2 separate regions of the Homo sapiens genome follow, and region 2 is linked to region 1. The links come from fine-mapping of genetic effects on gene expression. A gene starts in region 1. The other region holds a variant in brackets. All regions are shown on one strand. Distances are from middle to middle.

Region 1 (4,399 bases):
CAGTAACCAAAATTACACTATTTTGTATTCCTTTTAAAGTGAGTGCATAGTAAGTTTTCAATAAGTATCATAAGCATCCAAGGAATTTTTTGAGGAGTCAAAAATAACATAAAAAGGAGCTTAAAAGACCCTGTTATTTAGCTGATGAAGAATCTGAGACCCAGAGGAGTTGAAGTGGCTCGGCACAGGGGTAACCAGTGGGAGTACCGGCACCAACACCCAAGTCTGTTTTCAGAGTTATCTTTCTACCATACCTCATCCCGGCCCTGATGTGCATTCTCTCTCTTTTTTGAGACGGAGTCTCACTCTGTCACCCAGGCTGGGGTGCAGTGGCATGATCTGGATTCAATGCAACCTCTGCTTCCCGGGTTCAAGCGATTCTCCTGCCTCAGCCTCCCGAGTAGCTGGGATTACAGGCACGTGCCATCATGCCCAGCTAATTTTTGTATTTTTAGTAGAGACAGGGTTTCACCATGTTGGCCAGGCTGGTCTCGAAATTCTGACCTCAGGTGATCCACCTGCCTTGGCCTCTCAAAGTGCTGGGATTACAGGCATGAACCACCATGCCCAGCCTGATGTGCATTTTCTAAAGATAACCATCAGGAAATTTAGGACTAGATTCAGCGATAGATGGGTTTATTTCCTCAACAATATTTATCGAGCACGCACTGACAGCTAGCACCAGGGAGACAACAGCAAATAAGACACAGACCCTGACCTCAGGAAGCTTGCAGCCCAGTGGGAAAAACAGATGCACATGCACTGAATCCCGCAGTGAGTCAGTGGTTAGGTTGACACCACCTGAGCCTTTCCCATGCGAGAGCATTTTTATTCCCCAGAAATAGAAAAACATCCTTGCCTTTCTGACCACTGCAACCAAAATCTCTCAAGGATGTTAGAATACTTCCTGTGACAGCAACTAAACTCTCAAAGACACATCAAAGAAAAGAACTCACCCATGGTAGCAGCTGCAGTTTTGACTTGAACATGGTTCGTAATTCTCCAAAGACCTGTTAATTTGGTCAATAAATACTTTCCATTTTGAACCTTTAAAAAGTGAAGTAAATGAGAGTTAAAAAAATTTTCCTGAATGTTATTTGCTGACACCACACCAACAGAAGAAACAGAAGACCAAAACTTTCAGAAATCCCCTTCCCATCCCACTGATGGAAACGAAACGCTAGGGAGGAATTTTTGTGTGTGCAACTCCCACGCTCACGTCAAGTCTGTTCCTCTATCCGGCTGTCAGGTGTCCAAGAAACTGGAAAATTCCCAAGCTTAATGCTCAACCCTCAGAATGCTATGGATAGTGACGCGGACTCTCACTTTCTACTAATCAAATTGAACTCCACAAAGAGGATCAGTTAAAAGCTACAGACATTAAACCCCTCTTCTCTTCTGGCAACGCATATACACACACGCTCGCGCGCACGACATTTGCCCCCATCCCCGACCCCTCAGTGTTTCAGGCAGGTCCAGAGTAGCCAAGCACGGGCCACGCCTCCTGCGGGTGAACGGGGAATTCCCTCTCCTCCCTGTCATTCTGAATTCCGGGGAATGGGTTACTCTCCAGGGTCCAGAGCAGGAGCAGAGACCCCGGCACCTCACTCTCCGCCGCAAGGCGCCCCGGTGCCTTCTGCCCAGCTCCGAGCTACAGCGGCCACGGCATCTTCCCGGGAGCCGGCCGCGCGGGGGAGCGCCTCGGGACTCCGGCCAGACCCCGAGCCCAAGGGGCAGGCTCGGCACTGCCCGGAGCCCACCTGACTCCTTCTGGCGGCCCTGCGCTGAGGGCAGGAGGAACAACAGCAGCCAGAGCCGAAGCGGCGAGCTAGCCCACCACTCCATCGCCGGCAGACCTACTGCAGATTCCCCGCTGCGGCGCTGGCGGAAGCGCGGCCCCGCACAAAGATGGCCCGGGAGCCGCAGCACGTGGGCGGCGGGTCGCCCCGCACAAAGATGGCCACCGTGGCCCCACCACCCTTCCTCCAGTCCCCAGCCTTGAGGCGGAGTTTCCCTGAGAAGGCTGCGCCGGGAAGGTGGGGAGGATAAACGAATGGACCAGTTGCCTATCCTCCCTCCCTGGCACCCCTGGGAAAATAGGTCTGCAGCCAGAAAACTGAAGGTCAGAGAGGGTATGTTTCACGGTTAGTGGCACAACCAAGACTTGGCATAGAGCCTAGGCCAAACAGTTCTTCTCTTGACGTCAAATTGCCTCTTATCAAATAGCATAAATTTGTTGAGCATGTGTGTGTGTGTGTGTGTGTGTGTGTGTGTGTGTGTACAGCACGGTTAGACCCCAAAGGTTGCAATTAGCATAGCAGGGATCCCTTTGTAATAGGAATTTATAACAGTTGGGGTGACTTAGACGTAGGAAAAAAGATCAATGGTGTTAAATAAAGTTTATGGGAGGTCGTTGTTTTGGACAGAACTCTGGCACTAGGCCTCAAGAGAGCAGACAAAACCAGAATGGAGGCAACTTGTCCTAGGTGCTGCGTAATTAAACTCAGCTTTAAAAGGGGTCAGTTTTCCAACAAATAGGAGAAGGGGCCCATATACCTGAGCTGGCATGATAAAGAAGTCCCCTCTGATGTAACTCTTTGAGGAAAGTAACTTCAAAATGACCAATCTGCTTTTTGTTCCTTATTTCTGCTTTCTTCAGCCCTTTTCTGCCTATAAGCCCAACCCCTTCTGCTCAGCTCATTAGAACACTTTTCTGTTTTATAGATGAGATGCTGCCTGATTCATGAATCACTAATAAAAGCCAATTCGATTTTTTTTTTTTTTTGAGACAGAGGACAGTCTAACTCTGTTGCCCAGCCTGGAGTGCAGTGGCACAATCTTGGCTCACTATGACGTCTGCCTCCCGGGTTCAAGCAATTCTTCTGTCTCAGTCTCCCGAGTAGCTGGGATTACAGGAGTGTGTCACCATGCCCGGGTAATTTTTGTATTTTTAGTAAAGACAGGGTTTCACCGTGTTGGCCAGGTTGGTCTCAAACTCCTGACCTCAGGTGATCTGCCCACCTCGGCCTCCCAAAGTGCTGGGATTACAGGCGTGAGCCACCATGCCTGGCCAAGAACTTTAAACTAAATTTGATGAAATTTTGTTTCTTGACAGTGGGCAACATGATACTGGACAATATAGGTATATAGTATAGTACAGGTATATATCTTTATACAGGTATATATAGGTCAGTGTAGATATATTTAGTAATCATAGAACTACAAATATTTATCTATTTTCTTTTTTTTTTTTTTTTTTGAGATGGAGTTTCGCTCTTGTTGCCCAGGCTGGAGTGCAATGGTTCAATATCGGCTCACCACAACCTCCGCCTCCTGGGTTCAAGCAATTCTCCTGCCTCAGCCTCCTGAGTAGGTGGATTACAGGCTTGCGCCACCACACCCGGCTAATTTTGTATTTTTAGTAGAGATGGGGTTTCTCCATATTTGTCAGGCTGGTCTCGAACTCCCGACCTCCGGTGATCCACCAGCCTCGACCTCCCAAAGTGCTGGGATTGCAGGCGTGAGCCACTGCGCCCAGCAATATTTATCTATTTTCTAAAATGTACATGGTTATATCCCTAAGCCTTGTGGAAATATGGAAATACAGGGAAGTACAAGATCAAATCTGTGCTCCCAGGAGTTTAGAACTAGTAGGGAAGACAAATATGCTTCCTTAGAGATAGTTTACAATTTAAGGCAATAGTTAAGTGCCACTGGTTTCAGTGGAGGAAAAGATCAATATGAAGTGGAAATCTGGAGAAAGGGGTAGGAGGGGTATATTTTGTACTGAAGAAAAGGAAACGTTACAGTTAAGGAATATTGTGCTGGAGTCACTAAAAATATGGGAGCCATAATTTGCAGAAGGTGGGGATCAAATTTAGCTTGACAGTAGTGGAGGCTTTAGGATGCACGTTAAGGAATGGTGGAAGAGAAAATAATGTTGATTACCTAGGAATGGGCCGTATCGGTCACATATTACACCCATATGGGCATTTGGTCTATATTCCACCAGGGCAGAACCACCCAGTTTTTGTATGAGTGAGGCTCACTTTGGGTGAACAGACAGGAAAAAAAATGTATATCCAAAACTATAGCATATTTCTTCTGGAATCCAAATGAAACTTTAGTCAAAAATTTTTCTACTTCCAGGAAGGTGTGCAGTACAGTCATGTGTTGTTTGACAATGGGAATATGTTTTGAGAAATGTGTCAGGCAATTTTGTTGTGTGAACATCATAGATTATACTTACACAAACCTAGCTAGTATAGCCTACTACATACTGAGGATATTTGGCATAGCCTATTGCTCCTAGGCTACAAACCTATTCAGCATGTTACTGTACTGAATATTACAGGCAATTGTAACACAATGGTAAGTATTGGTGTATCTAAACATTGAA
Region 2 (4,397 bases), 48 kb after region 1:
CAGGAAGAGGAAACTTTTAAGTGAACAAAGCTAAGAAAATGAATGGCCATGGAAGGAGGCAAAGCAGAAAGTTTCAAAAGAGGAATGATCAATAGGATCACATATAACAGGGAAGTCTAGAGACTGAGAAGTGAATGTTGGATTTGGATATTAGACTATTGGTGACGTTAGCAAGAGAAATTTTAGCGGAGCTATGCGGGCCGAGGTCAGGCTGCCATTGGTCCAGAATAGTGAATTGTAATGAAGAAGTAGAAATTGAGCATTGATGACACTGATGACTCTTCCAAGAACCTAGACACAAGGTGATAAAAGTGGACAGAATTGAGGAAGACTTTTGTTTAAGATAGAATAGGCTTTGGCATGTTTATATGCTGAGGGATTAAAGATCAAAGAGGGCAAGGCTCAATACATAGGGAAGAATAGTGGATTACAGGAGACTGGGAACACAGAAGCCTGGGAGCTCTTGGAAAGAGGGGTAACACTTCCTCTGAACTAGAAGGGAGGTTAGGTACACACATATACAGGTAAGGGGAAATAGCAGTGGGAGCTTGAATAAAGATGTCTGATATTATAAACTTATGAAGCAATAACAATTATTTGTGGGGAAGAAAGAGTTGTCTAGGAGAGAGTCAAGAATAGTGGAATAGCCATTGTGGGTTGTGGAATAGCCATTGAAGATTTTGGAAATGAGGCTGCTCTTGGGGTGGTGGACCACAAATATCTAAAAGCTTTTATATTGTGGTTTTATTATTTTCTCTGATCTAACCCATAGACACAGTTAAAGGGCAGAGATGTGTGATAAGAGTCCAGATTCCAGGTTGGAGGTTTGTCAAGCAGGTGTGGCTAAAGGACTAGTGGTTAAGGGAGTTAATGGTCCTGGTGAGAACAGTGGGGATGATGCACCTTAAGTCTGGAAAGGCTAGGGAAGGAATTATGAAGTGTGGTGGGAGTGCTGTCTATCAGAGGAGGTTGTGGGGGCAGGCATGGTAATCTTGCACAAATACAAGGAATAAAGTAGTAAGGCTAGAGAAAGTTCTGAAAAAGGAAAATGAGAATTTAGGATCACAAAATTCTCTATTGTGAAATAGCCTGATGTGTAACCCTAGAAGCAAATGTTCAAAACTGAGTAGAGGGAAAAAGCTGTAAGCAATTATGGCAAGGGTATTGGGTGGGCTTTCCTCTATAAGCAATTATGGCAAGGGTATTGGGTGGGCTTTCCTCTAGAACACTGAAGTCATCCAGGATGATGGTGGGACATGAGGTAGAAGGAAACAGGGAGATTGGTACCCAAGACTGGGGAATCTGGGACATTAACTATAACCATGGCCACAAATGATAAAAGTTAAAATAGTTGGATCCATACATTTTGGTAATGAGGGATTTTTGTATGGGATGGGAAGAAACAATGGTGCAGAAGTAGAAGTGAGGACCTGGGAGAACATCCTCTGACCGTTCGTACAAGTCTGCATAATATGGGCGCATGGGCACATGTTCAGCCTTTTGTGGAGGGAAGGAAGTGTTCTCACACGAGTTTTCTTGAAGTCCAGGAAGTGGCAACAACATTCAGTGAAGAGACTGGGACTGCAGGGGAGTTTATAAGGAGAAAGTGACTCCAGAGAACATGGGAAAGACTGGAAGTGAGGGGAACTGTGTGTTGGACTGGGGTTGGGGGAAGTTCAGGAGAAAAACCAAAGAGTGTGCGGATCGGGGAGTATATAGGAGAAAAAGGCATTTAGGGCAGTAGTGAAGGATAGCAGGAGCAGGCCTGAGTAGTGTAAGGTTCTAAATAGAAAGTTGTTGCCAAAATGGTAGTGTTTTCTTCCCCTTGGCAATGAAAGGGGAAATATCACTACAAATGTTTCACTGCAAATATCACTAGGTTGTGAACCTAGGTTGTAGGATTGTTCACCTCCCCCTCCCCACCTTTGTGGTCATATATATAACAGGATATATGCCAGGACAACAAATGTTTGCCTTTCCCCCTAGAGCATCATTAACATAATTACTCAAATAAAAGAAGAGTCCCCTTTGATTGATTCAAGTAATAGAAAAGTTGAGTTCACATCTGTGCAGGTGGACCCATGTGCCTCCATAAGCTGTGGAGTTTTGAGAAGCAATGAGCTTTTATTCTTCTCATTTTTCATTATGATAGCCTGGACTTACGCGGGGTTTCCTGAGTGACATGACTATGTGTCTGCAACAGTAAAAGGGTGAAGTTGCAGACATCTGGCAATTATTAGTACGTAAAATAACAAAAACAAGAAAAATATACTGAAGCAAATCATCACGGACTTTTTCTGTGAGATCAAACATTGAAGTAACAAAAAATGACATCAAACAGAACAAACTAAAACAATGAACCTGGTGCATATAATCTACTTTTCTGATTATTGATTTTGGTGACCCCATGTCCTCCTCTAGCTCA[T/C]AGTTCCATCATAAGCATTATATTTTATATCATTTATTAGAGTATTTATTTTTAAAGCATAAAAATCTGTTTTAATTACTTAAATGTCTCTATGGATAGTTTTAATATTTATATTTGTAATGAATAGAATTACATCTTGATTATGTCTTTGGAAACGTATTTGTAGAGCTTAAAACACAGCTGAAATCATGTGGCTTTCCAATAGACTCCTTTGAAAAAGTGCTTTACTTTGCAGAATTATAAGCCAGAAAGTACTATGACATTAAGTTATTGCAAAGCATTGTGATTTATCCAGTAAAATACATGGCTATGGACCTTGTAAGCTTCTTATATTTAGCTACGTCCCCCTTACCCTCACAGAAAAGTAATCTCTGCATTATTAATGTACCTCAAGATTACTAAATGATCTACACAGTAGCCAGCCAATCTGTGGTGGCCCCCAATTTTATGCTATCTGTACTGGCACTGATTTCAGGCAATCACCCTTCCACCATTGCCCCCTCCTCTCCATGCTTGGAAAGATGCTTGCTCCCTCTTCTGGCCTTGTTTTGCTAGGAAAGGTTTTGGTAGTAGAGCACATATTCTTTGTCATGCCACATTTTGAGCTGACCTTCCTGCCAGACATGTCTAAAATCATAGTCTTAGCAACACTTAACCCCAATTCATGTGGTCATCAGATTGGACTGGCCGTGGTAGAATGTGGCCCAAATAAATCCTGGTGGGACTGGACTTACTGAGAACTTCTCCCACTCTAATACTGGACAAAATAATTGTATGCTCCCCAGTATCTCTTCATGCAGGAATGGAAGGCCTGTGTAGACAAATGACTGTCCCATCCAATTTTAGCCAAATGTGATTATCATATGCCAAACACTGACAAGAACAATTTATCTTGAATTGAACAGTTTATCTTGGGCCTACTGCTTCATCATTAACTAGGAGTTAATCTGCTTTGTGATGACAGAAGTCTCTAAAATCCCCTTTTCAAGCACTATGGAATACTGATCTTACCTGGCTCATTTGCAGAGATCTCACACTTCACCAAACCAATTATGACCACACGAAACCTCCGAACCTAGTTGCCACTATTCTAGCCTAGTTGCCACTTTCCAGTTTTCTAAATCAAGCAAAGTTCTCAAATACCCGAGTGTCTCACTGGGATGTTCTATTGGATTTGCAATTGTGTTCAATTTGATTATTTGGAGTCAGTAGGTCACTTGAATACCGTCAACTATCCTATTAAAAGATGCTTGTTGCCACACTTTTTCCCCTTCTGCTTTTGTTTGGCAACTTAATGGTTCTCAACCTTGCTCCTGGTTGTTTATGGGGGTGTTTTATTTGCTGCCATCCCTCCCCCTTTTTCACTAGACTCTTGAATGATTTGGGAGTGCTAAGGTACCCAGTGCACTATTACTAAGCTCCCAATAAATATTTGCTAAGGATGATGATATTTACATTTTTAATGTCCTCAGAGTCTAGACTTTTGACTTGGACAATATTTTGAATTTTAGGGTTTAGATTAGGTTAGGTGTCTTAATGGGGTTCTTGTTCAGATTTCTTCATATTCCAAGTGTAGCAGAAAATATAGGTTACTATTTTCTTAAGCAACCACTAATGCTGAAAGAAAACGTCAGTACATGCATGCGTTTCACTGCAAATCCATCATTTAACATCAGCAACCCCCATTTTGAGGACTGATAGCTGATTTGAAGGAGCCCTTGAGAATTTGATTGCATAGCCCTTTCTAGGGCACCAGGTAAATCCTCCTAAACACAGCAGCTCCTGTTCTGTCCCTCTCCTGAATGGAAGCAGACTATCTGATTCCCATCCAGCCATTCTCAGGGAGTTCATTTTTCGGAGACTCAAATGAGTGGTGAAATAGGTAATCCCAGAGCATTTGGGGGAACAATTTGTGGGGGGGAGGAATATGAGTTTTCTTTCTTTAGAATGGAATTTCATCAGTGCCAGGCTA

Evidence for each region. PIP is the estimated chance that this variant, and not a neighbour inherited with it, causes the effect.
Region 2: its variant is fine-mapped to the expression of POGLUT1 in whole blood (INTERVAL, PIP above 0.99).

What each region holds. Positions count from the first base shown.
Region 1 is chr3:119,466,468-119,470,866 of GRCh38, reverse strand. It overlaps POGLUT1 (protein O-glucosyltransferase 1), which reads right to left and starts at 1,904. Exons shown (of 11, transcript NM_152305.3): 1 at 1,761-1,904; 2 at 957-1,047. The coding sequence starts at 1,845. RefSeq lists a silencer at 1,628-1,827 and enhancers at 1,878-2,047, 1,740-2,240.
Region 2 is chr3:119,418,950-119,423,346 of GRCh38, reverse strand. ARHGAP31 (Rho GTPase activating protein 31) reads right to left here. Exons shown (of 12, transcript NM_020754.4): 12 at 2,633-4,397. Among named protein-coding and RNA genes, the nearest start is that of TMEM39A, 42 kb to the left of the region's middle. The variant T/C (reference allele first, on the strand shown) is at 2,426.